Linked DNA regions of Homo sapiens. The protein of the gene in region 1 interacts with the protein of each later gene in a pairwise test. Each region holds a gene or a part of one and is shown in the gene's direction. Other genes may lie near its edges. The genes, in order: GLP1R, ZNF99, CAND2, PIGG, SAA1, P4HTM and ARFRP1.

Region 1 (3,974 bases):
CACCTCTCTGACCAGGCCTGGCTACAGACCCCAGCTAGCATCTCCCCGTGGATCTTCCAGGCTAGTGCCACGGGGTCCAGGAGACCCTGCTCAGAGAACGGGAGAACCTGTCTCCCTTCAGAGCACCAGCCAGTTCCTTTAAACCCACCCTGAGACTCCTCATGCCCTGGCTGCTCCAGGCACAAGGACAGATACATCATTGTCACTGGGCCACAAAAGACACATGTGGCTCTGGGGCTAAGGCCTCTGTCCACAAGAGCTGTTCTGCAGACCCAGGGTTGCCATGGCAATGCCAGGTACTTGTGACCTGAGGAGAAAAGATGGCTTGAATATTGGTTCTGTGTGGCTGCCAAGGCCTGCACCAGCTGCTGGTGGGCGTGAGTGGGGACAGGGAGGGGGAGGCCTGAAGGTGGTTTTGCTGTAGCTTGTGCCTGAGAGCCACAGTGAGGTGACTCAGAGCCCTGAGTGCTTGTCCCAGCCCTGCCACTGCCGAGCTGTGTGACCTGGGGCAAGTCATTTTGCCTCCCTTGCCTCTGTCTCCCCAGCCGTAAATGAAGGTGAATGAGCTTCCCAATTCACCCCGAATCCTGAGGCTGGCATGGTGCCTGCTGGAGAGGGAGGTCAGGAGGGGTGTGCTGCACTGCAGAGGTCGAGGGCAGGGATGAGGATAAAAATCCGATGGTGGAGGAGGAAGTGTGGTGGCCTAAGTCCCAGCCCAGGTGCTCAGAATCTGTGGTGTTGTCTTTGTGGGTTCATTTTCATAGCTGAGGAACAGAAGGAACCTGATGTGAGATGCTCATGCATTTATGTGTTCATTCATTTGGTTCATTTAAAACACATGTACTGAGCACCTGCTGTATGCTGGGCACTGTGCTAGGTTCAGGGATGCTGAGATGAAGAAGATGTGGTCCCAGCCCTCGAGGTGCTCCCAGGTGAGAGGTAGGAGATGGACCAGGGACAAGCAGGACTGCAAGAGCCACGCAGGCAGGAGGCCAGGGGTTAGGAGCCGGGCATTGGAATCAGGCCAGATCTAGGTTCAAATCCTGGCTGAGCGACCTGAGGAAATAAACACTCTGCACCTCAGTTTCCTCATCTTTAAATGTGGAGCTACTTTGCAGGGTTGATGTGAAAGTCAGCTAAGATAATTAATGGAAAATTCTGTGCATACAGTAAGTGCCCAATAAATATGGTGATTTTCAAGGACAATCGTGATTACAGGGGTCACAGCAGAGGTTCAGGAAAAGTGCTGAAGGAGATGGGGGCAGAAGGAGACACTGTGTGTCAGCACCCTGAGAAGTCCCATAGGTGTCCCTGAAACCTCTCTTTGGTCTCTGGTTTCCCGGAGGTGTGCCTCAGTTTACCATCTTTCCCCCCCTCTCCAGCGGAAGGGCTATGAAACAAGCCTGGCCTCCTGGCAGCTGCACAAGTGGGGGCCACCACTGGACTCAGGGCCCCCATCCCAGCTGTCAGCATGCGCTCCCTTCACAAAGACTCAGCCGGGCAGGGAGCTGGCATACAACAGGGTGGCTGTAGGTGGTGTCTGCTCAGCCTCCTTCCCTCCCCCACTCAAGCTTGGGTTCATGACGCTGCATGGGACACTGGCGTCATCCTGGCAGGCAGCCTCTGGGCCATCTCAACTCTACTCAGTGCAGAAAATGTTCTTTTAAGGGATGGCATGCAGCCATACCAGGCGTCTTGCTGGGCATAGCTGGATGGACGACAAAGGAGGAGAGGAGGGTTGTTTGCACAGGGGCTGGTGGGGAGATTGGCCCCTTATCCACAGCCGCTGGCATCTGGCTGTCTTGGTGACTTGGCCTAAAGGGAAGGGCCCAGACCCCAGACACTCTGGTGTGGGAAGGGTGGGGACTTCAAAGAAGCTCTGGAAAGCAAATGTATGGGAACATCACCCAGAAGAGCAGTCCAGACCCCCCAGGACTAGCTTGGCAGGTTCCAGCTAGGCCTCTCCAGGGACCAGAATCACTGGCCACCACCGGGAGCCACAGCATTGCCACAAACCCTCAAGGGATGGGGGCTCCACAGTGTTACTTGGATTTGTCTCTTTCTGCCCCAACAATCTGGCCCCCAAGCATCAGCCCTCCTGAGAGGCTTTTCCTGATGGGGAGGCCAGAGCCCAGCACAACAGGGATCCTGGCTGACTGAGCTCCCCTGGGCTGCACCCCCATGGTCACTGCAGTGTCTCTCTAGATGGCATCAGTTGAGAAGCCCTCACTGGCTGCCCCTTCCTCCCTGCTGTTTCCCGTCTCAGCCACATTCCTTCCTTCCCTCCCTCCTCCCCTGTGAGGTGCTGGGGCCTGGAGAGAAGCCCTCAGGGAGTTTAGAAGGGTCTGCTGTAGACACCAGGAAGGCTGGGGGTTGCCGTCCCCCTTCTCAAGCATCCAAGCTGAAACTGGACTGTGCGCTGTAAAGACAGAGTCTCTCTTCTCTCTCCCATCTCCTGTCTCCCTGTGTTTCACCCTCCCTCTCATTCTCTTCCGTTAAATAATACTGTGATGGATTGTAAAAGGTACTTAGCTGAATCACAGAGTTTAGAGATGGAAAAGACCAATTAGGTCATCAAGCTGATCTCTCTCCTGAGGAGCTGCAGAAAATAGGAGACAACAATAAACAATTTTATTGGGATATTAATTTAGGAGCCCGAAGGCCTTGACTTGTGTCTCTTAATATAATGCAGTGGATTTCTTCCCTTCCCCACTAATGTAATAGTGGGGCCATTTTGTTAGCCATTGGTTTGCATGATGGCTTTCGTTTCCCTCCTTTTCCCATGGAAGGTCCAGCTGGAATTTCGGAAGAGCTGGGAGCGCTGGCGGCTTGAGCACTTGCACATCCAGAGGGACAGCAGCATGAAGCCCCTCAAGTGTCCCACCAGCAGCCTGAGCAGTGGAGCCACGGCGGGCAGCAGCATGTACACAGCCACTTGCCAGGCCTCCTGCAGCTGAGACTCCAGCGCCTGCCCTCCCTGGGGTCCTTGCTGCAGGCCGGGTGGCCAATCCAGGTGGGAGAGACACTCCCAGGGACAAGGGAAGGAAGGGACACACACACACACACACACACACACACACACACACACATACATCCTGCTTTCCCTCCCCAAACCCATCAGACAGGTAAATGGGCAGTGCCTCCTGGGACCATGGACACATTTTCTCCTAGGAGAAGCAGCCTCCTAATTTGATCACAGTGGCGAGAGGAGAGGAAAAACGATCGCTGTGAAAATGAGGAGGATTGCTTCTTGTGAAACCACAGGCCCTTGGGGTTCCCCCAGACAGAGCCGCAAATCAACCCCAGACTCAAACTCAAGGTCAACGGCTTATTAGTGAAACTGGGGCTTGCAAGAGGAGGTGGTTCTGAAAGTGGCTCTTCTAACCTCAGCCAAACACAGAGCGGGAGTGACGGGAGCCTCCTCTGCTTGCATCACTTGGGGTCACCACCCTCCCCTGTCTTCTCTCAAAGGGAAGCTGTTTGTGTGTCTGGGTTGCTTATTTCCCTCATCTTGCCCCCTCATCTCACTGCCCAGTTTCTTTTTGAGGGGCTTTGTTTGGGCCACTGCCAGCAGCTGTTTCTGGAAATGGCTGTAGGTGGTGTTGAGAAAGAATGAGCATTGAGACGGTGCTCGCTTCTCCTCCAGGTATTTGAGTTGTTTTGGTGCCTGCCTCTGCCATGCCCAGAGAATCAGGGCAGGCTTGCCACCGGGGAACCCAGCCCTGGGGTATGAGCTGCCAAGTCTATTTTAAAGACGCTCAAGAATCCTCTGGGGTTCATCTAGGGACACGTTAGGAATGTCCAGACTGTGGGTGTAGATTACCTGCCACTTCCAGGAGCCCAGAGGGCCAAGAGAGACATTGCCTCCACCTCTCCTTGGAAATACTTTATCTGTGACCACACGCTGTCTCTTGAGAATTTGGATACACTCTCTAGCTTTAGGGGACCATGAAGAGACTCTCTTAGGGAAACCA
Region 2 (4,717 bases), on another chromosome or scaffold:
CATGTCTGGAGGAGCTCAGCTGAGACAAAAAGAACAGCCTCACTGAGCCCACCCTAAATAGCTGACCATCTCAATTATGAGCAAATAAGTTTTGAATGATTTGTTGTGCTGCAATAGCTAATTAATACATGCACCCAGTGCAGATAGGATGCCAGGATTCATTGACAAGTTGATTACTAGTTCTCTTCTAACAGTGGGTACCCTATAGGTACTGATTTTTCCCCTGATATAAAGTTGGAGGCCTCGTAAGAGAATGCTGAGTAATGCAGAAATATATGTGGACATGTATGCATGTAATTGGTGCCTATACTCACACAGTCCCCCATACCACAGGAGAAAACAGATAACCACAGCCTGACCATTAGGGCCAAGGACAAATAGAAAAGTAAGTTTTCCTTTAATCTATTTTCTTCATATCTAAACATTGGAGGTCAAGACTGTGCACAGATTTGAAGACACAGAGATTTCTTCTCCTGTGGCCTTACCATCCTTAGTTCACCTTCTGATCTCTGGAATAAAGGTAGGCAACAGGTGGCCAGCAGTGGTCTACCTGTGGTTGTTTTTTCCTGCTGTCCTGTGCTTTATTTATGGCTACTATCTGTTCCTCCCTCAGAGCTGAAGAGAGATGTTGGTAGGGAAAGGCTCTTTTTCCATCTTTGGCAGAAAAGGTTTGTTCAGGCCCTTCCCTCTCCTAAGGTCAGAGCTGCACTTCAATGTGGCAGCTACTGGCCATGTGTGGCGACTGAGTGCCTGGAATGTGGCTGGTCTGAACTGTGATGTGCTGGAAAGGTAAAATACAGAGTTAGTTTCAAAGATGAAGTTCCAAAAAATATCTACACTTCATTTATAATTTACATTTTGCTTACGTATTAAGATGATATTTTGGATATATTGGGTTAATTAAATTGCTACAATAAATTCCACCTGTTTTTTTTTTTTTTAATTTTTAAAGTTTGGCTACTAGAAAATTTAAAATACAATTTTATTTCAGAGGATTGCCTTCTTTTTAAAACCTCAGGCAATCTGATGAAAAAACCAGAAGCCAGGAAGGTCATAAACTCTGAAAATTTTAGATAATTGTTATATTCTTTTCATTTGTGAATAACCATATAATATATTATTTATAAAAGAATGTGACCTTATACAAAAGGTTAAATGCAAATACCCTCTGGGGTTGGCCTGGCTCAGTTCAGGAAGGAAGCCCTGCCTGAAAAGGCTGCAGCCTAGACTGTCATCCTTTCCTTTCTTTTTCTTTTCTTTTCTTTTTTTCGTGACAGAATCTCGCTCTGTCATCCAGGCTGGAGTGCACTGGCGCGATCTCGGCTCACTGCAACCTCCGCCTCCTGAGTTTAAGCAATTCTCGTGCCTCAGCCTCCGGAGTAGCTGGGATTACAGGCGCCCGCCACCACACCAGCCTAATTTTTATTTTTAGTAGAGACCGGGTTTTGCCATGTTGGCCAGGCTGGTCTCCAACTCCTGACCTCTGGTGATTCACCCGCCTCGGCCACCCAAAGTGCTGGGATTACACGCGTGAGCCACCGCGCCCGGCCCGTCACTCTTCATTCAGCTCAGCATCAGATCACATCTTCTGTCACTCAGGGCCTGAGGAGGCGGGGATTTAAACATTATCCAATCAGGGACTCTGGGCTGGGAACCGTCCAATCAGGCACTCAGCTGGAGCGGAAAGGGCGGCTTGTGGGATGTGGCGGGGCCGTTGTTTCTGGTTCCAGCTGGAGCTCCGGATCTCGTTTTTACTGCTCTGTGTCCTTAGCCTCTGTGGCCCTGTGACCTGTAGGTATTTGGAGATCCACAGCTAGGACGCCAGGACCCCCTGGAAGCTTAGAAATGGTGAGAGTGCCGGGTCCGATATCCTGAGAAGGGGAAGGGGCTGACTGGAACCGGTGGAAAGTGGCTGTGGCGGGACTCAGGCCTCCCCTCAGTGAGCTCCACAGTCTGCGCCCCGAGCTCTTGCCCAGCTCGGCCTCAGTCTCCTTCAGCCATAAGATGGCGGCTGCGCTGACTGCGGGACCCCGGGCGACCTGCCTCCTTCCTGCACTGTGACTATGCCCTGGCCTGGAGCCCTCTCTGGGCCGCTCTTCACCCGCAGCGCCTCCTCTCTCACAGATTGTGCAGGGACCACGGGAGGGGCGTCAGGGGAGAATCCTGACTCCGGGTGCGGGTTCATGAATGGGAAGAGCTTTGGTCCAGTGAGGTTTCCAGTCCCTCTTTTCTCCTATTAAAAATTGATGGCAGTCATCACTAAAGTAATAAAGGATTTAATCAAAGAGTGATTCAAAAATGGCAGAGCACCCAGCTGTGGTTTGTAGTTTATGGTCTATGGAAGGGATTTGACGGAAAGAGTTTTATAAGGTGCATAATGAAGAAAACCAAATTCAGTAATGGGTTATGTACAGTTACGTAGATTCTTAATTTGTACAATCAAGATGGAAATTTCCCGTTTATATAATCAGAGGTTAATTGTAGTTTATAGTTGGTTAAGCCTGAATTTTGTTTCCCCCAATGTAGTAATTTACAAAAAAAAAAGCACTTGAATTATTAATATTTTTTTCTTTCTTTTTTTGAAACGGAGTTTTGTTCTTGTTGCCCAGGCTGGAGTGCAGTGGCGCGATCTCGGCTCAACGCAACTTCCGCCTCCCAGGTTCAAGCGATTCTCCTGCCTCAGCCTCCCGAGTAGCTGGGATTACAGGCATCCGCCACCACACCCGGCTAATTTTTGTGTTTTTAGTAGAGACGAGGTTTCTCCGTTTTGGTCAGGCTGGTCTCGAACTCCCGACGTCAGGTGATCTGCCCTCCTCCGCCTCCCAGAGTGCTGGGATCACAGACATGAGCCACCGCGTCCGGCCGAATTAGATTTTTTAAAAAGTAGATTATCAGGCCTGGCTCGGTGGCTTACACCTGTAATCCCAGCACTTTGGGAGGCCGAGGCGGGTGAATCACGAAGTCAGGAGTTCTAGACCAGCCTGGCTAACATGGTAAAACTCCGTCTCTAATAAAAATACAAAAATTAGCCGGGAGTGTGGCAGATGCCTGTAATCCCAGTTTCTCGGGAGGCTGAGGCAGATAATCGCTTGAACCCGGGAGGCAGAGGTTGCTGTGAGCTGAGATTGCGCCACTGCACACCAGCCTGGGCAAGAGAGGGAGACTCCCTCTCATATTAAAAAAAAAAAAAAAAAAAAAAAGGCCAGGTGCGGTGGTTCATGCCTGTAATCCCAGCACTTTGGGAAGCCGAGGCAGGCGGATCACCTGAGGTCGGGAGTTCAAGACCAGCCTGACCAACATGGAGAAACCCCATCTCTACTAAAAATACAAAAATTAGCCAGGTGTGGTGGCACATGCCTGTACCTGTAATCCTAGCTACTCGTGGGGCTGAGGCAGGAGAATTGCTTGAACCCGGGAGATAGAGGTTGCGGTGAGCCGAGATCGCGCCATTGCAGTCCATTCTGGGCAACAAGACCGAAACTGTCTTAAAAAAAAAGAAAAAAAAAAGTAGATATCAGGCACTAGAGCCACCTCAGTCTATTTGCCTGCCACTTAATTATTTTTAATTATTTTCACACTCCTCAGATGACTGATTTTCCCCTCCATTTTTTACAGGTATCTCAAGCAGAGTATTATGTCTACTCCCAAACCCCAATTCCTGCAGCCTAACTCTGGCTTGCAATAAAATACTAAACTTCCAGTTCATAATGTCAATTTTCCCTCTCTGATTCACATTACTATTTGTCCTTAGTGTACATTTTGATACTGTATTTTATTTTTTAACAAAGCATTGGATGGTACTTTTCATAATATTTGTTTTCTGTTTGTGAATATTTCCTAAGAGAAGAAAGCAAAAAATAATCCCCTGACACTGTGTTGTAAAAAATCTTTGTGCCGCTTTTTTTTTTTCCTCCTTGCTCCACAGATTTTAGCAGAATGTTTTGGGGTAAAGGTAAAGGTTTTCCTTTGGAAACTTTATGATGTGTTTTCAGCCATTCTTCAGTTTTTTCCCTGGTCCTGGGTTTCAGTACTGTCTGGGAATTAGCTAAAATATTCCCCATGGCTATGTCTGCTAGAGTGTCTAGTGAATATCAGCTCCTGGTCATTTTCTCCAGTAGGACAACCTGAGGTGTGGAGTGTAGCCTTTCAACGAAGAAGGCAGATGCCCTGGGGTTGAGAGGTCTCTCCTGGTATACTCTTCCTTTGAAAAGCTAACCCTTGAGACATTAAGATTGTCTTCACCCAACCCAGCTTCCATTTTTTGAAGACACATTGCTGGTCAGCCAATCAGATGCTGGTATTGCGGGGAAAACACAGAAATAATTTCTGCCCCCTGCATTCTTTAAGGGAGCAGAACAATAGTGAAATATAATGAAAAAATAGTGAAAGAAAAATAGTGAGAATCTGTGAAATCAAAAATAGTGTCCCAAACGACAAAAAAAAAAAAAAAAAAAAAAAGTGACCCCAATGAGATGGTGTAAGAACTTGAAAAGTTCTTACCTGGGGCACTCACTGGGGCATAGTTCAGAGTCTCCTGAGAAGGAGTTATTGGGCACTTAAGTGAGGAGAATGGGGTGGGAGAATCTCTTAAGTGATTGGATGGCCTGACTTGACACATGAATCAGACACATCTGTACCTTGAAAAGATTTGTTCACTTATTTTGACCTCAGTTTTTTAACTGTAAATTGCATTTTGTTAGTAGGGATTGAAAGGTAA
Region 3 (3,974 bases), on another chromosome or scaffold:
AAGGGCTAGCTCTCTCACTACCTCTCCTCCTGCTCTCACCCTCCCTGACAAAGCCCTCTGCAGACCTGTTCTTTGTTGAGCCTGGAGTCCCAGAGATAAACCTGATGAGCCTCTGCCCTCAGTGAGTGTACAGTCCAATGGAGAAGATGCTCTGGTGGCCAGACTTGTATTGCAGTGTGAGAAGTGCTATAAAGGAGGGGTGCAGAGTGCTCTGAAAGGATCTTGTCCAGGGAACCATTGTGCTTAGGGGCTGTGGATGCAGGGGTAGGGCAGGGAGGTCAGTCATCCTTGAGCTGGGACATTTGAGCTGGGCTCTTGATGGGTGAATAGGAGGAGCTCAACAGATGAAGAAGAAGAGCGGGGATAGAAGGCCTATCTTGGGCAAAGAGGCACATCGCCTGGGTTGCCAGGCTGAGCTGGGCCCCCATGGACTGCAGCAGAAACACAACTTGGAGACCCTGGGTGCCATCTCAGAATGTCCCCTCAGCTGAGCAGACGTAGGGGTGCATGTGCTCACCTCAGGCCTTGGCCTGGCTCAAATCCAAACCTCCTCCTTCACTTTACCTTTGCCCAGAGGTGGGCACAGTCAGTCCTGCCATCCTGCCCATGCTGCCAGCCCAGCCTCCTTCTCTCTCCTAGCAACTTGTGGCTAATCTACCTGTTAAAAATAAATAGGTCATCGACCAGTCCACCCCTGGTAACAGGGCACTGTGGGCTGCAGTGACATCTAGGAGCAGGTCTGAGTCTGCACAGATGAGAGCCAGAATCCCAACTGTGATAGATTTTGCCACAGGAGGCGGGGGTCAGGGCTCTTGGTTGATTTGCTCAACCATGCTGGAAAGCAGGGCCAGCGTGGGGTGGTAGAGTGGCCCAGCAGGGTCAGTAAAAGCTGGAGGCTTTCTCCGAGGCAGCCTTACAGTATCTCCTCGCTGCTCTGTCCTGTTTTCTCCTGAGACTCCGCTCTCACATGCCTGCAGGAGCCAGTCAGTGGGTGAAGTGGGCCTAGTGGGGACCAGGTGAACTGGGGAGAGGGCAGCCACAACCTGATTCTAATCAGGTATTGTCACCAGGGATTGTAGGCCCCGTTGTACTCAAATATTCTGTTTTCAAGATAATCTGGAAGTCAGTGTTTTGTTTTTGTTTTTGTTTTTGTTTTTTTTTGAGTCTCACTCTGTCACCCAGGCTGGAGTGCTGTGGCACGATCTTGGCTCACTGCAACCTCTGCCTCCTGGGTTCAAGTGATTCTCCTGCCTCAGCCTCCCAAGTAGCTGGGACTACAGGTGTGCACCACCATACCTGGCTAATTTTCGTATTTTTAGTAGAGATGGGGTTTCCCCCTGTTGGCCAGGCTGGTCTCTAATTTCTGACCTTAAGTGATCTGGCGACCTTGGCCTCCCAAAGTGCTGGGATTGCAGGCGTGAGCTGCTGCGCCCAGCCTGGAAATCAGTATTTTTTTTTTTTTTTTTTTTTGAGATGGATACTCGCACTGTTACCCAGGCTGGAGTGCAGTGGCACGATCTCAGCTCACTGCAACCTTTGCCTCCCGGGTTCAAGTGATTCACCTGCCTCAGCCTTCCCAGTAGCTAGGATTACAGGTGTCTGCCACCGCGCTCGGCTAATTTTTGTATTTTTAATAGAGACAGGGTTTCACCATATTGGCCAGGCTGATCTAGAACTTTTGACCTCAGGTGATCCACCCGCCTCAGCCTCCTAAAGTGCTGGGATTACAGGCGTGAGCCGCCATGCCAGGCCAAAGTCAGTATTTTTGTGTCAACTTTCCCAATGTTCAAATGTTGACAAGTAATTTAAATTTTTGAAAACATGTTTGCAAGCTGGACACAGCTGAGGGCTACTAGTTTCAGACCTCTGCTCCTACCCTCTTAATTTTGGCGGGAATGGTGCCCAATTCCCGCACCATTCCTCGACTTGGAAAGTTGGCCCCAGCCTCAACTTTCCGTGGCTTCCAGCTTAGACTCCCACTGCAGTTTCAAATGCCTGGGACAGCATCAGGCTTTTGGTGTCAGGCCCCATGAATCCCTCACCTCCGGGTGGGTAGCCCTTGCCTCTGGTGCCCACCCTAGGTCAGTGAGCCAGTCAGCTATTGGCGCTGGTCTCCAAAATATGCCCATGCCCATCAGCATGGCGTGGGGCAGTGGTTTTCAAAGTGTGGTCCCTGACCCTCAGTGTCCTCCAGGAATTTGTTAGAAATGTGGATTCCTGGGCCCCAACTCAGACCTGCTGATTCAGAAACTCTGGGAATGGGGACTAGTATTATTTAACAAGCGCTGCTGGTGATTCTGATGCTGGCTATAGCTGGAGATCCACTGCTCTAAGGGCAGGGACTGAGCCGGTTCTCTGAGATGGGAGTGGACAGGGCTCGCCCTCCTCCATCTGTTTGGCAGACAGGCCTCTAGCTCTGACTTGGACACAAGGTGTCTGTTCAACCTTCTGGTATCCCTTGGCTGGGCGCGGTGGCTCACGCCTGTAATCCTAGCATTTTGGGAGGCCGAGGTGGGCGGATCACGAGGTCAGGAGATCAAGACCATCCTGGCTAACACAGTGAAACCCCACCTCTACTAAAAATACAAAAAATTAGCCGGGCGTGGTGGCCGGCACCTGTAGTCCCAGCTACTCGGGAGGCTGAGGCAGGAGAATGGTGTGAACCCAGGAGATGGAGCTTGCAGTGAGCTGAGATCGTGCCACTGCACTCCAGCCTGGGCAACAGAGCAAGACTCCATCTCAAAAAACAAAACAAAACAAAACAACCTTCTGGCATCACTTTCTCAGCTGTTGTGAGATGTGGATGATGTCCTGTGCCATTATAATAATGGCAGTGCCATTTACTGAGCACACACCATGTGCACTTAAAACACCATGAGGCAGGTACTAGTCTCATCCCTGTTTTCAGACAGGTAAACTAAGGCTTGGAGAGGTGAAATGACTTGCCCAAGTTCACACTCATAAATGGCTGAGGCGGGGGCCACCGATCCTGAAACATTATGCATTTAGCCAGCATGCTGAGCCGTTGCTAGTCTGCCACTATGTGGCAGTTGGTGTCACACATATGTGGGTCTCCTTGTAGCCCAACCATGCCCACTGCCCAAATAATCCACCATCATGTGGCACTTAACGACGGGGAAACATTCTGAGAAGTGCATCCTTAGGCGATTTTGTCCTTGTGTGAACCTCATAGAGTGTGCCTACACAACCTAGATGGTAGAGCCTACTACACTCCCAGGCTATATGGTGTGGCCTGTTGCTCCTAGGCTACAAACCTGTATTGAGTACTGTAGGCAGTTGTAACAGAGTGGTATTTGTGTGTCTAAACATAGAAAAGGTACAGTAAAAATAAGGTAGAAAAGATTAAAATGGCATGCCTGTATAGGGCAGCTCCATTAAAATCTTTTTTTTTTTTTTTTTTGGAGACGGAGTCTCTCTCTGTCGCCCAGGCTGGAGTACAGTGGCATGATCTTGGCTCACTGCAAGCTCCGCCTCCCGGGTTCACGCCATTCTCCTGCTTCAGCCTCCCAAGTAGCTGGGACTACAGGCGCCCGCCACCACACCTGGCTAATTTTTTGTATTTTGTTTAGTAGAGACTGGGTTTCACCATGTTAGCCAGGATGGTCTTGATCTCCTGACCTCGTGATCTGCCCACCTCGGCCTCCCAAAGTGCTGGGATTACAGGCGTGAGCCATTGCGCCCGGCCAGCTCCATTATAATCTTATGGGACAACCATTGTATATGTTGCCTGTCACTTACCAAAACATCATTATGTGACACAGGACTGCATTTGACCTCGAATCTTTGTATTAAGGTCTACTTCTAGGGGAACCCTGAGGTACTGCCCAAATCCACCAGGGCCCAGGAGCTGCTCAGCAATCTCCTCCACCCTCCCTGTGCAGGTTCATGGCCACCAGCGACCTGATGTCGGAGTTGCAGAAGGACTCCATCCAGCTGGACGAGGACAGCGAGCG
Region 4 (3,974 bases), on another chromosome or scaffold:
AGCAACAGAGAGGGACCCTGTCTCAAAAAAAAAAAAAAAAATCTTCAGTGCCCTTTTCATGCTCCGGTTTTGGATTCAGTGGCCTAATTCTTGCATTTTCTGACTGCAGGCATTGATGACGGGGAGCCTTCCTGGCTTTGTCGACGTCATCAGGAACCTCAATTCTCCTGCACTGCTGGAAGACAGTGTGATAAGACAAGCAAAAGCAGCTGGAAAAAGAATAGTCTTTTATGGAGATGAAACCTGGGTTAAATTATTCCCAAAGCATTTTGTGGAATATGATGGAACAACCTCATTTTTCGTGTCAGATTACACAGAGGTCAGTTTTTAAAATAAGAAAATATATCATACTAGAATATCATACTAGATAGAGCCTGGCATCCCATTACTTAGTGAGAGATGATACCATTTTATATTTGGTTTTATTAATTTATAGGGAGTACTATGGACAGGTGTAAAAATTATTCACTCACATAATCAGTTAACAACCCAGAAATACAAACCTGAAGCAGGTGTGAGCAGAGTTTTATGGAACCCAAAGCTTAGAACAGCTGAGTGCCATTGAGGGGCAGAGAGGATCAGGAAGGGTGACACAGCCAAGGGACTGTCTGAGCCGAGATATGATGGGTGAGTGGGGACTCCCCAGGTGGGCAGAACAGGCTGGTAGCTTCTGCACATGGCAGAGCTGTAGGACTCCACAGCCTGTTGGTTCTGCTGCAAGCGGAGCCTCATCGTGCCCTGAGGGCAGGTGGCCGACTGGGTGGGGCCTGGTCCTGAGGGGGTTTTCCTGGAGCTTTTCCAACAAAAATTAGACCTGCATGTTAGAAAGCAGACCTGGGGCTGAGGTAGGAGCACACCAGCACACCTGCCTGGCCTGGGGTTTAGCCAGCTTCACCTCCTAGATGGCTGGGCCTTATGGAGCATCTGTAGTCCTATCCTGTTCCAAAGTGGGGCGCTTTTCAACAGTTACTTTTCAGTAATGACTGAGTTTTCCTGACTATATATGGCATCACTGAGAAACACTTCTCTTCATAGGAGATTTTTTTAGTGGGAGGGAGATGAGCTAGCTGAGGGGTCAGGGCTCACCAGGCTGACAGCTCTATTGGGGGCTGATCAACTGCTCATCTCTCCTCCGTGATGTGTTTATTTCAGAAATCAATGTGATCATTGAGTGCTGTGTCTTTTTCAGAACAGCCTTCTTGTAGGACACATGTAGATGCCCTCAGCTTCATCATCCTGCTGGTTACTTTAACGCTGGGTACTGTCCTGTCTTTAATTAACTGCCCTTTGCCCTTAGTTACCTCATGACAACTTGGGATCTATTTAACTTGCCCATTTGCTCACCTTCAGTTATGCCCATTAAGCCCAGCAGTGATCCCACAGAAAAATATTTTTGTCAGAAGAACCCTTGCTCATTTAAATTATCTGTAGAATATATTCGATCCATAGCCCAGAAACATAAAAACAATATTAGCAAAAGTTTAATCCAATGCTAATGTTCATTTATTTATTATAGACGTGGGGTCTTGCTATGTTGCCCAGGTGGGTCCTGAACTCTTGGCCTCAAGCAGTCTTCCCGCTTCAGCCTCCTCAAGTGTTGAGATGAAAGGCATGAGCTGCTGTGTCCAGCCTATTTATTTATTTTTAATGACATAGATTTTGTTGTGTTTCAACTCCCCCAAATCCTGTAACCTGAATAAACCCCTAGATTTTAAGATGACTGTTGCGTTTTCCCCGGGGAGTGAAGATCCAGGGAAATTAGGTGAGTTGTTTATACGTGTGTTTCCCCTTCAAAGGTGGATAATAATGTCACGAGGCATTTGGATAAAGTATTAAAAAGAGGAGATTGGGACATATTAATCCTCCACTACCTGGGGCTGGACCACATTGGCCACATTTCAGGGCCCAACAGCCCCCTGATTGGGCAGAAGCTGAGCGAGATGGACAGCGTGCTGATGAAGATCCACACCTCACTGCAGTCGAAGGTGAGGCTCGCCGTCGCTCACTGTCTGCTGATGTGGTTTCACGTGGATGTTCCCTAGAATAAATGCAACCGCCTGAGTTATTCAGGGTGCCTGTGTGAATGTCCACCATCAGTCTGCTAGCCAGGGGCCGCATGCCACACGGGCAGCACTGTCTCAGTGTCCACTGCACTGACTCCGTCTTCCAGCAGCCCTGCAGAACAGCAGCTCTCACTCCTACCCGTGTATGCATTCATTCAACTAATACCTCCTGAAGACCTTTTGTGCCACTCTCTCTGTTCTGTATCACTCTCTCTGTTCTGTGCCACTCTGTTCTGTGTCACTTTCTGTTCTGTGTCACTCTCTGTTCTGTGTCACTCTCTCTTCTGTGTCACTCTCTGTTCTGTGTCACTCTCTCTGCTCTGTGCCACTGTCTCTGTTCTGTGTCACTCTGTCTGTTCTGTGTCTCTGTTTCTGTTCTATGTCACTTTTTGTCCATGCATTTGGGTGCATCAGTGAAACAGTCGATAATCCCTCGTGAAGCTCACGCTCTAGCCAGGAGAGATGAGAAAGATGAGTAAATAAGTATGTGAGGAGGTGATGGGTGCTGCAGAAACTCAGAGGGCAGGAGGAGGGGCTTTCAACAGCGTGTTGAGAGAAGCCTTCCCTGAAGACGTGTGCAGGGTGAGCAGAGACTTGAAGGGAGGGAGGGGCAGACCATGTGGTCTGTGCACGAGTGTTCCAGGAGGACCAGCAGCGAGGGTCAGGCACAGCCTGCCTGGCTTGTCCCGGAGCAGCAAAGGATGTGTGGCTGCAACCCCAGGGGCAGAGAAGCCTGGTGGGTGCCCCCACATGGCTCAGAGCTCTTGCCTTTTGCTGTGTGTTGTGTTCTCACCAGAGTCCTGTGAAAGATTCCATTTGACAGATGAGGCGACCAAGGCACAGAGTAGAATGCGTCCAGAGTCTCACAGCTTGGCAGTGGCAAAGACAGAAACCAGATACAAACCGTCTGCCATCAGAGGGCAGAAATGCAGCCTGCTGTGCTCCATGAGCTGTGTACAATTCTGTGAACTTCATTTATGGCATTATTTGACTGTGACCCTGTGATCTGGCTATGAGCTCATAGGAAAAAAAAATCTAATTCATTGAGAAAGAGCTACAACTCTATAAAGTAAAGCTAAAACCGAAAATTGTCTTCTTAAGATGATGTGCTCTCTTCAGTCTGAACGCAGTTGAAATGTTTTTCCTTTGCCTTAAAGGAGAGAGAGACGCCTTTACCCAATTTGCTGGTTCTTTGTGGTGACCATGGCATGTCTGAAACAGGAAGTCACGGGGCCTCCTCCACCGAGGAGGTGAATACACCTCTGATTTTAATCAGTTCTGCGTTTGAAAGGAAACCCGGTGAGAATTTAGGAATGTTAACAGTTGGAAATTGTATTACATTTGTTTTCTATAGTCTGGTTTTAATTTTGAAAACCTATTTTTTAGAAGCTCCATAAGGTTGAAGTCCCCAAGCAATGTGAGCATGAAAAGTAATTGGGCAAAAGGCTTTTGGGATCTGAAGTTACGTTCCTTCCCGAATCCTTAAAATACAGTTATTCTTTGTCAGAATTTTGTTGTATGAATGTTGCTGCCTGGATATCTGGAACTGTTGAGAAAAATTGCCAGTAGCTCAGAGACATCTGGACAGCATGTGTGAACTGAAGGAAACGTGAATACCTCGGCTTTTTTAAAAGTTTGCATTATTGTAAACCATCTATTGAATAGCAGTGTCAACAAGAGTCATGGGACCCGGCCAGAGCAGGACAGACAGAGGCCCCGTCTGTCAGTATTCAGACACGCCCCAAACACACACACACCCCACTCTGACCTGTGCCCAGACTCAGCCGCCAGCCTATGCACTCTGCCCTCGCGGCCGCCGGCCTTGCTGTCCTGTCGGCGGCTGCCTTCCACTTGCGCCTGGCTTCTGCTGCCACACTCGCTGCCTCACTCTTGGTGAGCTCAGCGGTAATT
Region 5 (4,690 bases), on another chromosome or scaffold:
TCCCAGCTACTTGGGAGGTTGAGATGCAAGGATCACTTAAACCTGGGAGGCTGAGGCTGCAGTGAGCCATGATTGCACCACTGCACTCCAGCTCAGGCAACAGAGCAAGACCCTGTCTTGAGAGGAGAGGAGAAGAGAGGAGGGGAGGGGAGGGCAGGGGAGGGGAGGGGAGGGGAAGGGAGAGGGGAGGGGAGAGGGGAGGAGAGAGGGGAGGGGAGGGGAGGGGAGGGGAGGGGAGGAGAGGAGGATCAGGTGAGGAGTATGCCAAGGAGTGTTTTTAAGACTTACTGTTTTCTCTTTCCCAACAAGATTGTCATTTCCTTTAAAAAGTAGTTATCCTGAGGCCTATATTCATAGCATTCTGAAAGAAAGAAAAGAAAAGAGGAAAGAAAGAGAGAGGAAGGAAGGAAGGAGAAAGAGAGAGGAAGGAAGGAGAAAGAGAGAGGAAGGAAGGGAGGAAGAGAAGAAGGGAGGAAGAAAAGAAGGAAGGAAGGAGGGAGGGAGGGAAGGGAGGGAGGGAAAGAGGAAGAAAGGAGGGAAAGAAGGAAGGAAGAGAGAGAGGAAGGAAGGAGGAAGAGAGAAGAAGGAAGGAGGAAGACAGAGAGGGAGTAAGGAAGGAAGGAAGGAGAAAGAGAGAGGAAGGAAGAAATGAAGGAAGGAAGGAAAGAAAGAAAAAATAAAAGAGTGAAAACGGACTGGAGAAGAAGAAACCACAGTTGCTGCTATATCCACCAGCCTCTCTGCATGTCCTGGCCTCAGCCCTGCTGGGCTCTGGTACTGACCACTTCCTTCCTTCCTAATTTCCTAATTGACTAGGCCAGCTGAGCAGGGCTTTTCTGTGCTGAGGAGGTAAATCTCTGGATATCTAGACTGAGGGGTGGAAGGAGCCTTCCAGGGCACACATGAGACATGGCAGGGGTAGGCTGCTAGTTTTATTTTGTTTTCTTTTAGACACAGGGTCTTGCTCTGTTAACCAGGCTGGAGTGCAGTGGCGTGATTATAGCTCACTGCAGCCTTGACCTCCTGGGTCTCCCACAATCCTTCCGCTTCAGCCTCTTGAGTAGCTGGGACTGCAGGTGCACACTACCACACCCGGTCCATTTATTTTTATATTTCGTAGAGACAAGATCTTACAGTTTTGCACAGAGTGATCTTAAACTCTTGACCCCAAGTGATCCTCCTGCCTTGGCCTCCAAAAGCATTGGGATTATAGGAGTGAGCCACTGTGCTGGACCTAGTCTGTCAGCTTTGAAGCTTTAGATATGAACTCAGAGGGACTTCATTTCAGAGGCATCTGCCATGTGGCCCAGCAGAGCCCATCCTGAGGAAATGACTGGTAGAGTCAGGAGCTGGCTTCAAAGCTGCCCTCACTTCACACCTTCCAGCAGCCCAGGTGCCGCCATCACGGGGCTCCCACTCTCAACTCCGCAGCCTCAGCCCCCTCAATGCTGAGGAGCAGAGCTGGTCTCCTGCCCTGACAGCTGCCAGGCACATCTTGTTCCCTCAGGTTGCACAACTGGGATAAATGACCCGGGATGAAGAAACCACTGGCATCCAGGAACTTGTCTTAGACCGTTTTGTAGGGGAAATGACCTGCAGGGACTTTCCCCAGGGACCACATCCAGCTTTTCTTCGCTCCCAAGAAACCAGCAGGGAAGGCTCAGTATAAATAGCAGCCACCGCTCCCTGGCAGGCAGGGACCCGCAGCTCAGCTACAGCACAGATCAGGTGAGGAGCACACCAAGGAGTGATTTTTAAAACTTACTCTGTTTTCTCTTTCCCAACAAGATTATCATTTCCTTTAAAAAAAATAGTTATCCTGGGGCATACAGCCATACCATTCTGAAGGTGTCTTATCTCCTCTGATCTAGAGAGGTAAGCAGGGTCGGGCCTGGTAGTACTTGGATGGGAGAACACCTGGGAATACCAGGTGCTAAAGGCTTTAAGAATAAAAAATAATGATCCTGCTTTGTGTTTATCCCATGTTGAGTTCTGTGCGGGGCAGAGGGAACACACGGTAAATGCGTTATGGGGAATTATAGGCTACTTGAGGGAGTGACAGTCTGGTGGTAACTCCTGCCTTCCTCCATCAGTGCCACGTTGGCATCCTCTTATGCAGTCAGGCTTCAGGGCTGATGGGTTCAGAACCGAGGGCTTCTGGCTCTGAGTGAGGTCCTGCTGCAAGGTTTCCTAGATGAGCCACTGAGACTCTAATAAGATCCAGTGGAAATAACCAGGCTCTCGTCGGAATATAAGTCCCAAGGGAAGCTGTGCCAGTCTTGTGGGCGACTGCCTGACTTCTCCTTTCATTTCAGCACCATGAAGCTTCTCACGGGCCTGGTTTTCTGCTCCTTGGTCCTGGGTGTCAGCAGCCGAAGCTTCTTTTCGTTCCTTGGCGAGGCTTTTGATGGTAAGGCTTCAGAAGGTTTGCAGGATTTCTGAAGAGAAACATCACCCTGGACCTGATAAACTGGGGAAAATGATGCTTTCGGAAGGCTGCTTTTGAACCACAGAGTTGCTAGTGTCTGCGTTGCTGAGGCCTGCCAGGAACTAGGGTTTGCTGGGTTGCCTGTCTCGAGTCTTTCAGAGCTGCTGGGAATATCCCCTTTCCCCGTAGTGCAGCTTCTCAGGATGTGTTAAGTGGATGGATCACATTTCAGAAGCCGCTGCAAGGTGTATCAAAAACACATCTCCTGAGCCGTAAGGGACGGGGCATCCAGTAACAACGCACACGGGGTATTTTTGGGCTTCCTTAAGATTTGAGCCGCTGCCTTAGGTTGTGCTGCCCAATGTGCCTGGGGAGCTGCTAAACAGATTAGAGAGTCGAGGATTGTTGTCAGTTACTCAGAGAAAGAACAATCATCCTTTCCAGGAGCACCTGAGCTGTTTGTTTTGCGTAGAAGATGCAAAATAAGGCCTGCAATGGGTATAAAATGTCCCTCAGCATAAATCGCATAGGAGTATGACTAAGGCTGTTGACTCTTCTGTCTTCTTTCTCCTTCCTCCTTCGATTTCCTAGTTGGATAATGTACAGGGCTCTTTAGCCTCGCTCTGTCAGGGGCTCCCTTCCTGGTTTGTTCTGTTTCCATTCTTCCTTCTCCAGCCTTCTTGACAAGAGCTGGGAACTAACGTGCCTCAAGCCCCCACAAGGACCACAGCATTTTCTCATTTAGTTTCAGAATGACTCTGTGACGCAATCTTCCTCTCTTGGAAGGTGAGAAAGCTGATCTTGGAAGGTGAGAAAGCTGAGACTTAGAGCAGCTGAAGCCAATGCCCAGGGACTTACTGCCAGTCAGCAGGTGGCAGGGCAGAGGTTTGAGCCCGGCTGTGCTTGAGGTCAGGGCTCTTGCCAGGTAGACGCATCACTGACCACCTCCTAGAGGTTGATGGTTATGAATCTCAGGCACACCTTGGCATCACCTGAAATACCCATGCCTTCAACTCCCCAGCAGAGTCTGCAGAAACTGGCCTGGGGTGTGGCCTGGGCACTGGGACTTTCAGTTTCTCTCTGGGTGATTAGAAAGTGCAGCCAAGGCTCACGCCTGTAATTCCAGCACTTTGGGAGGCCAAGGTGGATGAATCACTTGAGGTCATGAGTTCCGGAGCAGCCTGGCCAACATGGTGAAACCCCGTCTCTACTAAAAATACTAAAATGTAGCCAGGCGTGGTGGCAGGCACCTGTAATCCCAGCTACTCAGGAGGCTGAAGCACGAGAATCACTTGAACCCGAGAAGCAGAGGTTGCAGTGACTAGAGATCGCACCAGTGTCCTCCAACCTGGGTGACAGAGCGAGACTCCATCTAAAAAAAATGAAAAAGAAAGTGCAGCCAAGGCAGAGCACCACTGCCCTATTGCTTCCTCAAGCAACCCACAGCATCAGTACAGCCTACTAAGAAAGTATTTAGGGACTTTTATGCTCCTAACAGTCACTGGAACTCACGTCACAATGACGTGTATTCCATTTGCAAGAATATATACTTTAGGTCGGGGTGCGGTGGCTCACGCCTGTAATCCCAGCACTTTGGGAGGCCAAGGCAGGGGGATCACGAGGTCAGGAGTTCGAGACCAGCCTGACCAACATGGTGAAATCCCCGTCTCTACTAAAAATACAAAAATTAGCCAGGCGTGATGGCGCATGCCTGTAATCTCAGCTACTCAGGAGGCTGAGGCAGAAGAATCTCTTGAACCTGGGAGGTGGAGGTTGCGATGAGCTGAGATAGCACCACTGCACTCCAGCCTGGGCGACAGAGCAAGACTCTGTCTAAAAAAAAAAAAAAAAAAAAAAAAAAAAAAAAGAATATAAACTTTAGTAGTCAGGGCAGAAGTACTCTGTGTCTGCCACCTTTCTCAGCATCAGTATTCCATGTCACTACCTCATTCATACACACTCCTGGATCTTATCATAGGCAGCTTCATTCTATAGCAGTGGCTCTTCACCAGGGCACTTGAAGAAGCCAACTAGGATAAAGGAATGTGCTTCTCAACCCATGGTATCCAAGGCTGCTATGATCACAGGCTGAAAGCTTGAAGTCAGTGGAAGATTTGTCCTTCCTCATTCCCCTCTAAGGTGTTGTTGGAGTCTTTATGTTCTCCTGATGTCCCTTCTGCCTTTCCTTTCCTTTCCAGGGGCTCGGGACATGTGGAGAGCCTACTCTGACATGAGAGAAGCCAATTACATCGGCTCAGACAA
Region 6 (3,974 bases), on another chromosome or scaffold:
ACCAACATGGGGGAACCCCGTCTACTAAAAATACAACATTAGCAGGGCGTTGTGGCACATGCCTGTAATCCCAGCTACTTGGGAGGCTGAGGCAGGAGAATCGCTTGAACCCAGGAGGCAGGGGTTGTGGTGAGCCAAGATTGTGCCATTGCATCCAGCCTGGGTAACAAGAATGAAACTCCATCTCAAAAAAAAAAAAAAAAAATCTGAGCAACGACTTGTGGGAAGTATGGGATAAAGCCAGATGACTGTCAGGAAAGAGGGGTCCAGGAAGGAACTAATACTCACCCCATTACTACTACACTACTAACGACTACTATGAACAGACACATCTGAGGAGGCACTGTTTTCTCTCAGCAGCCTTCCTGGGATCTGTATATATCTAATTCATATTGATGTTAGGTTAAGTAAGCCATGAAGCCAAAGTCTCCCTAATAAACAGCTTGTCCTATAAAGCAGAGAATGAGCCGGGCTTGGTGGTTCATGCTTCTAATCCCAGCACTTTGGGAGGCTGAGGCGGGTGGATCACTTGAGGTCAGGAGTTCGAAACCAGCCTGACCAACATGGTGAAACCCCGTCTCTACTAAAAATACAAAAATTAGCTGGGCATGGTGGTGGATGCCTGTAATCCCAGCTATTCGGGAGGCTGAGGCAGGAGAATTGCTTGAACCCGGGAGGCAGAGGTTGCAGTGAGCCAAGATCGTGCCACTGTACTCCAGCCTGGGTGACAGTGAGACTCCATCACAAAAAAAAAAAAAAAAAAAAAGCATAGAATGAGAAACCCAGATCTAAAGTCACCAAGGGCAAATTATGAAAAGCAGAAGAGATTTGACAAAAGGTAAACTGGTTCTGGTTAAGCCATCAGATGGATCTCTGTTTCTGCAGATGAACTTCAAAAGGCATAACCAAGAGATTGCAATCAATGATTACAGGAAGTCCAGATGTGTGAGAGGGAAGAGGGTGGTCATGGTGGGGCAGTTCCTGAATACTGTGGTATTGGATGACTACAAAGAAGGATGCCTCATCCCCAGCAGGAGCAGTGTCTGTCTTCTGGGCCTGCCTGTCCCTCTGTCCATTGGTCTGCTACCCAGTTATTCTAAATGGGCAAGCAGGGCCCAAGAAGAGTGGACCTGCTATAGATTCTGCCCCCTCTGCCATGCTGTTCTTGGATCTAAACCTGTGACCTGCCAGCTTCAGGGACCCAAGATACCTGGGATCGAAGAGTGGATGCTAAAGATGTGAGCTGGGGCAAGGGAACTGGGGTCCACCCCAAGGTGCCTCCATCTCTGTAGAAGGGAACCCTAGCACTTCTCAAGGAAGACCCCGTGCAGCCCCCAGTCTCTCCTTGAGAAATATTTCCTGTTTCCCACCCTTGTTTCTAAAGACACTTGGCAACTGGGACCTGGGCCACAAAAGGCCCACGCTTGAGCTCCTGGCAAATACTTCCATGACTGGTAGGTCATTTTCCCTTGGTAGGGAAATAAAGGATTTGGAATATTGGGTGTCAGCTGAGGGCACCATCCTGTTCAGAACAGAAGTGCTCCATTTCTGAACCATTGCCACCTCTCTGGGGACATTGCTTTCTTACATGTGGCCCACTTCTCCCGCTGTCCTACCCCACCCCACACTGATTCTGTCATAGCAGATCAGATCTCATGGCTCTCTCTTTTTGTTTTGTTTTGTTTTGTTTTGTTTTTGTTTTGAGATGGAGTTTCACTTTTGTTGCCCCGGCTGGAGTGCAATGGTACCATCTCGGCTCACTGCAACCTCCGCCTCCCGGGTTCAAGTGATTCTCCTGCCTCAACCTTCCAAACAGCCGGAACTACAGGCACCCGCCACCACACCTGGCTAATTTTTTGTATTTTTAGTAGAGATGGGGTTTCACCATGTTGGCCAGGCTGGTCTCAAACTCCTGACCTCAGGTGACCCACCCACCTTGGCCTCCCAAAGTGCTGGGATTACAGACATGAGCCACCGTGCCCAGCCGCTCATCACTCTCTTAAATGTCTCCAACATTTTCCATTTCACTTCTAAGTCTCATTTGATGCCTAAAAGCCCTCTCGCCTCTTAGACTCATCTCCTGCCCCCACCCCCGACTCCATTTACTCCCTGCTGATCCTCAGACACCACAAGCTCACTACTGCCTCAGGGCCTTTGTATGTACTATTCCCTCACTAAAAGGCTTAGACCTGGCTCTTCCCACAGAGCGTGCCTTCAGCTCCAGCAGGCCTCTGCTCACACATCCCATCCTCAGAGACCTCTTGTCCTCAAACCCATCTTAAAAGGTTCCCAGGCACCCTGTTGCATCAGCCTGCTGGGTTTTGTTCTCAAATGCTTAGGACTGCTGGAAACTATTTTCCGTATTTATTTGTGTCATTTGTACCTCTGCCCACAAAGGTGAGCTGCATATGTAAGAGGACTGATTTGTCTCAGCTGTGTGTCCAATGGCCAGAGTTGTATCTCCTGCTGATTTTTTTTTTTCTTTTGAGATGGAGTCTCGCTCTGTTGCCCAGGCTGGAGTGCAGTGGTGTGATCTCGGCTCACTGCAACCTCCGCCTCCTGGGCTCAAGCCATTCTCCTCCTGCCTGAGCCTCCTGAGTAGCTGAAATTACAGGCGCCTGCCACCATGCCCAGCTAATTTTTGTATTTTTACCAGAGGCAGCGTTTCACCATGTTGGCCAGGCTGGTCTCGAACTCCTGACCTCAAGTAATCCGCCTGCCTCAGCCTCCCAAAGTGCTGGGATTACAGGCATAAGCCTCCGTGCCCAGCCTCCCGCTAATTCTTGGCTGGCTGGAGGAGTTCACTGGGTGCTCTCAGCCCAGTCCAGCATCTGCCTGCTGGCTTAGAGCATCCTCCACGTATCCTTCTGACTTGGCACCCTCTTCAAAGGCAGCAGGGGGTACTACCAGTGGCCAGCAAGAGTTTTAATCCATTTTTCTTAACAATTTGAGGTAAATGAGTAATTGCCACCAGTATACAAAACAATTTATTTTAAAATCATGACTGCTTTATCTTAGGATTTCTAAATGTATTCTTTTTCAGCTTAAGAAAACAATTAGGCAGCTACATCAGACCATAGTCCTCCTCATGACAAACACTGGAGGCCCAAAAGTAGAGAAACAATTTTAGTGTGCGTATCAGTTCAAGGTTGTTGTTTTGTTTTGTTTTGTTTTTTGAGACGGAATCTCGCTCTATGGCCAGGCTGGAGTGCAGTGTGGTGCGATCTTGGCCCACTGCAACCTCCGCCTCCCGGGTTCAAGCAATTCTCCTGCCTCAGCCTCCCATGTAGCTGGGACTACAGGTGCGTACCATCTCGACTCACTGCAACCTCCGCTTCCTGGGTTCAAGTGATTCTCCTGCCTTAGCGTTCCGAATAGCTGGAAATACAGGCACCCGCCACCACGCCCAGCTAATTTTTGTATTTTTAGTAGAGATGGGGTTTCACCATGTTGGCTAGGATGGTCTCAATCTCTTGACCTCGTGATCCGCCTGCCTCAGCCTCCCGAAGTGCTGGGATTACAGGTGTGAGCCACTGCGCCTGGCTAGTTCGAGTTTTTAAGGAATTTAGCTCAGGCTGCTGCATTGCCACACACACCCCTGCTCTTTCATAGGCCTGCTGCTTGGCAAAGCTACGGACCGGTAAAGGTTAATCAGGTATAATTAAGTCTGTCCGGGGTTCGACAAACAGCATCTTGTCCAAGGTGAGCATAGCCCAAGGCTATGTGCCTGCCCGGAGACTCAGCTTGGGGTTCCGAGGCATGTGGGCAGTAGTAGCAGGCCACTAGCCAGGCTGTCATCCTAGGCCTGGGAAGGACAGAAGGTGGTTTTCCCTACCCAGCATAGACAGCTGCCTGGGAGCCTGTCTGTCCTCTTGGCCAGACAGAGGACTACCTGCTCAAAAAGCAGTTCCTAGCTGTGTCCATGGAAAGTGTACTTCCACCCTGTTTGAGACTTGTGCCTCTCTGGATTCTGG
Region 7 (3,889 bases), on another chromosome or scaffold:
TCCCATGGCCAAGTGATCTCTGATAGATCCTGTAGGACCACTGAAGTCAGACAGGACAAGTTGAGTCAGGGCCTGTGTGTCCAGTGCGCAGCATGCTTGGGGAGTGACACAGATGATGATGATCTTGTCACAGGCCGGTGTCTCAGGCACAGATGCTGAGACAGGTCGAGGTACAGGATGCACACTGGGGGTCGGCACCAGGAAGGCAGGGAGGACGGGAGAGGAGAGGTCGACTCAGGCAGCAGGATCCACAGAGCTGTGGTTGGCCCAGCAGGGAGCCCTGGAGGAGAACTGGCTATGCTGTGCCATGTGGGGCCAGGCTGGCCGGGACTTCACACCATGGCCTGGTGGGTCCCCAGTGTGGGCTGCCCTGGGCAGGTGTGACCTGGCAGTGTGGCTCTTTGCAGCCAAAGTGGGTCCCACAGAAACCAAAATGAGACCATCTGCTGGTGCAGTGTTCTCCAACATGAAGCAAGAATACAGTGGGGCCAGAGATGCCTGCACTGGCCACAGCTGCAGCCCTATGTGGACCCACACTTCCACGTTGGAGAGGGGTTCCTCCAAGGTCCTGAGGGCCTCTCTTAAGGCGAAACTGGAAGAGGGAGACTTAAGGGGGCCACTGTAGCCCATCCTTGCTGCTGGTCTTGGGGCTGCACAGCCCTTCCTTGAGTGCCCTCCCAATTCACTACCACTTCTGCTGGGGTGCGACTTCCTGGCAGTCTGAGCCCTTCTCCAGACACCACCGTGGTGGGGCCAGTGGCTCCCTGGGTCCCCAGCTGTGGGACAGCTGTGGGATGGCAGCCCCATCTCCTGCCCACCAGGGTCTCCTAGACATGAGGTGCAAGTCATGCCCATGAGGCAGCTGTGGCTCGTCATTCAGCGTGTCTGCTGAGTATGTGCTGCTCTAGTGGCCGGGACCCCTGACCCTGCTGAGCTCAGAGCTGGGAGGATCAGCTGCAGGGACCCCCCTAGGTCACTGGGAGGGACCGGAAGGGAGGCCCCTGCTCCCACCCTGGTTTCCTGTATCCTGCATCCTTGTGCAGAGCCAGCACCACAGAAAGGGGCGTCATTGCGAATTGGCCTCGTCCTGGGGCTGGACCCTGGGTTGGTGTCCACATGTGTGGCATGTGCCAGGACCTCAGCTCCTGGGTTCTTTGCTGTAACACTAGTCTCTCAGGCTGGCTGGCACTTTGCAGTTGGGGAGCTCCCATTGCTGCTGGGGAGAAAAACTCAGACCCACAGTCCCTCTGACTGCTCCACTGGGGTCAGCTGGCCAGCCAGGAGCCACGCTTGGACACCTCCCTCTTCCCCCTCCTTGTGGGGCACCCCACAATGACCACTGCTGTGACGCCTCCACTGGGGCGTGGGGCTCTGGGTCCTGCCCGCACTCAGCCCTGAGGTGTCGCTCCCGTCCACTGCGGCCCTGCTGGGCTGTGCACCTTGTGCCTGGTAGGTGTGATGGGTGGCTCTGGCCACGTGGTCCCATGGTCCAGGACCCGGTTGCACATGAACCTTCTGCCACCCTGCTCAGAAGCCCCAGGAGCCACGTGGAGATTCTCTCACTGGGCTTGCTGCAGCCTCCACAGAGCCGCCCCTCCTGCCACAGAGGTCTCCACCTTAGGGTCCGCCTGCTCCCTTGTGTCAGCAGCAGACAGCCGGCACACTGCAGGGTCCCTTGAGGGGTTGGCGGCCTCTGTGTGGGACCTGTCTGTAGGCCAGAGAAGTTCCTGGGGGTGGGGGGGCCTCGCTACCTGCAGAACCCTGGAGGGCGCCTGGCCTTGGGCCTCCTCTCCACTGTGGGAAGTTCCTGGGGGTGGGGGGGCCTGGCCTTGGGCCTCCTCCTTTCCACTGTGGGAAGTGCAGGTGCACAGGCTTCTCTCCTCTGTGGGAAGTGCAGGTGCACAAGCTTGTCTGGCACTGGGATGGGGTTGTCTGGTACTCCCTGCTCAGACACCCTAAGGATTTCGGAGAGTTGGGCTGTGCCTCCTGGCTTCTCATGCTCTCGGGTGTGTGTGTCTTAACACACTGACCACCAGCTTGTCCTACCTGGTCAGCATCCAGTTCTAGGTCTCTGGGCACTCATGCCTGGACAGGAGAGCTGGCACAGCCTGGAGGCAAAGTGGCAAATGTGAGCTGTTGTCTGCTCCACGTGGACGCGGAGTTTGCTGTGTTTTTTTCTGATTGAGATAGAGGTGCACTCATCTGGTCCAGGGCTCAGCACTTGTACCTGAGGCTGCAGGGGCTGTGCCCTGTCTTGCCCAGGAGTGTTGCCAGCGAGCCCAGGACTGACCAGCCCAGGCTGCAGAGGTCTGAGCTCAGTGACTCTGGCCCTGTCCTGGCAGGGAAGGCTCGCTTCGTAGATGGCGCTGGTCAGTCTTATCCGCATGGCCACACTCCCTCCCTGTGCGAGGTGCTGGCACAGAGCCCCACAGGTGCACTCCCTCAACGGGCCAGGCTGTGGTCTAGGTTCCTCCAGCCCCCAAACCCTATCTTTTTTTTGAGACAGGGTCTCTCATTCTCACCCAGGCTGGAGTGCAGTGGTGTGATCAGAGCTCACTACAGCCTCAACCTCCCAGGCTCAAGCCATCCTCCCACCTCAGCCTCCCGAGTAGCTAGGACTGCAGGCGCACATTACCATAAGCTTTTGTACAGACGGAGTCTCACTGTGTTGCCCAGGTTGGCCGTGAAGTGGGCTCAGGTGATCCTCCTGCTTCTGCCTCCCAAAGTGTTGGGATAATAAGTGTGAGCCACCACGCCTGGCCCAATCCCTGTCTTTCACCTTTGGCCACCATCAGGCCAAAGGTTGCCGGCAGGTTCTCAGGAGCAGCGTCTGGGGACACCTCCACCAGATCTCCCCGCAACCCCAGAATGCATCCCAGAAGGGTCTTGCAGTTGGGGGCTGCCCTCTTGCCCCTTCCTCATGTGAGCCCCTCACTGTGGCCATGACACAGGCCTGGCTCTGCTGGCCCTTGGCAGGGTGGGGACTGAGCCCCAACTCCTGGTGCTTCCTCCCAGTATTATGCGGAGTGTCACGGCGTCATCTACGTCATTGACTCCACCGACGAGGAGAGGCTGGCTGAGTCCAAGCAGGCGTTTGGTGAGTGCGGCCTGGCTGCTCTGGGAGGGATGGATGGTGAGTGGGGGCAGGTCCAGCTTGGGCAGCTCTGTGCCTGGGGCAGGCTCAGTGTCTGGTCAGAAGTGCTCCTGCCTAGTGGGTGACGGGGGGGGGGGGGGCAGAGGGAGTGGCTGTCACAGTGTCCACGCCTGTGGGCCCCTGGGCAGTCAGAGGCAGGATGCTGGGTGTGAGGCGCTGCCTCTCCTGCCCTCCCCAGAGAAGGTGGTGACCAGCGAGGCGCTGTGCGGTGTCCCCGTCTTGGTGCTGGCCAACAAGCAGGATGTGGAGGTGAGCCCCACCCCTGCCTCCCGCAGCAGCTTCCCGAGTCCCCAGCCTCCCCCACAGCAAGGGGAGCAGGTGTGCACCCAGACACCCCAGGCCCAGTGACTGCCCAGGGGGTACAGAGCCATTCTCAAGGCCTGCCCTGCCCCCAGCAGCTTCCCAAGCCTGGTTCCTCTCCAGACCTGCTGCTGCCAGCCCTGGAGGTTCTCCCACCTCAGGGCAGGCGCCCAGAGGCCTCTTCCTGCTATGCAGGGCACCTCTCCCCAGGAGGGCGGCCGTGTCTCAGGAGTGTGTGGCCAAGCTGTGGGGACACCCAGGTGAAACTCAGAGCTCAAAGAAGTGATGCTGGGGCCCTGGTGGGAGTCAGCTCTGACCCTTACCTGTTCCTGCTACCCTTGGAGGTGGCATCTGTGCCAGCCCCACCCCCAGGGCAGCCCCTCAAGACCCCTCTGAGGTGCCACTGCCCCCGGGAGCACTGGCCACGCTGAGTTC

What was found.
Region 2: the proteins of GLP1R (region 1) and ZNF99 interact in a protein complementation assay, tested with the Homo sapiens proteins (one large-scale study listed by BioGRID).
Region 3: the proteins of GLP1R (region 1) and CAND2 interact in a protein complementation assay, tested with the Homo sapiens proteins (one study listed by BioGRID).
Region 4: the proteins of GLP1R (region 1) and PIGG interact in a protein complementation assay, tested with the Homo sapiens proteins (one study listed by BioGRID).
Region 5: the proteins of GLP1R (region 1) and SAA1 interact in a protein complementation assay, tested with the Homo sapiens proteins (one large-scale study listed by BioGRID).
Region 6: the proteins of GLP1R (region 1) and P4HTM interact in a protein complementation assay, tested with the Homo sapiens proteins (one study listed by BioGRID).
Region 7: the proteins of GLP1R (region 1) and ARFRP1 interact in a protein complementation assay, tested with the Homo sapiens proteins (one study listed by BioGRID).

The regions. Positions count from the first base shown.
Region 1 is NC_000006.12:39,083,117-39,087,090, forward strand, and holds part of GLP1R (glucagon-like peptide 1 receptor precursor), read left to right. Parts: intron 1-2,789; coding exon 2,790-2,957; 3' UTR 2,958-3,974.
Region 2 is NC_000019.10:22,781,145-22,785,861, reverse strand, and holds the start of ZNF99 (zinc finger protein 99), read left to right. Parts: upstream 1-1,710; 5' UTR 1,711-1,845; coding exon 1,846-1,848; intron 1,849-4,717. UniProt on the Homo sapiens protein: May be involved in transcriptional regulation.
Region 3 is NC_000003.12:12,799,586-12,803,559, forward strand, and holds part of CAND2 (cullin-associated NEDD8-dissociated protein 2), read left to right. Parts: intron 1-3,902; coding exon 3,903-3,974.
Region 4 is NC_000004.12:505,609-509,582, forward strand, and holds part of PIGG (GPI ethanolamine phosphate transferase 2, catalytic subunit), read left to right. Parts: intron 1-109; coding exon 110-319; intron 320-1,796; coding exon 1,797-1,985; intron 1,986-3,220; coding exon 3,221-3,362; intron 3,363-3,974.
Region 5 is NC_000011.10:18,264,569-18,269,258, forward strand, and holds the start of SAA1 (serum amyloid A-1 protein preproprotein), read left to right. Parts: upstream 1-1,695; 5' UTR 1,696-1,728; exon of another isoform or gene 1,729-1,875; intron 1,876-2,315; 5' UTR 2,316-2,319; coding exon 2,320-2,410; intron 2,411-4,626; coding exon 4,627-4,690. UniProt on the Homo sapiens protein: Major acute phase protein.
Region 6 is NC_000003.12:48,993,115-48,997,088, forward strand, and holds part of P4HTM (transmembrane prolyl 4-hydroxylase), read left to right. Parts: intron 1-3,470; exon of another isoform or gene 3,471-3,974. UniProt on the Homo sapiens protein: Catalyzes the post-translational formation of 4-hydroxyproline in hypoxia-inducible factor (HIF) alpha proteins. Hydroxylates HIF1A at 'Pro-402' and 'Pro-564'.
Region 7 is NC_000020.11:63,701,344-63,705,232, reverse strand, and holds part of ARFRP1 (ADP-ribosylation factor-related protein 1), read left to right. Parts: intron 1-3,015; coding exon 3,016-3,097; intron 3,098-3,332; coding exon 3,333-3,403; intron 3,404-3,889. UniProt on the Homo sapiens protein: Trans-Golgi-associated GTPase that regulates protein sorting. Controls the targeting of ARL1 and its effector to the trans-Golgi. Required for the lipidation of chylomicrons in the intestine and required for VLDL lipidation in the liver.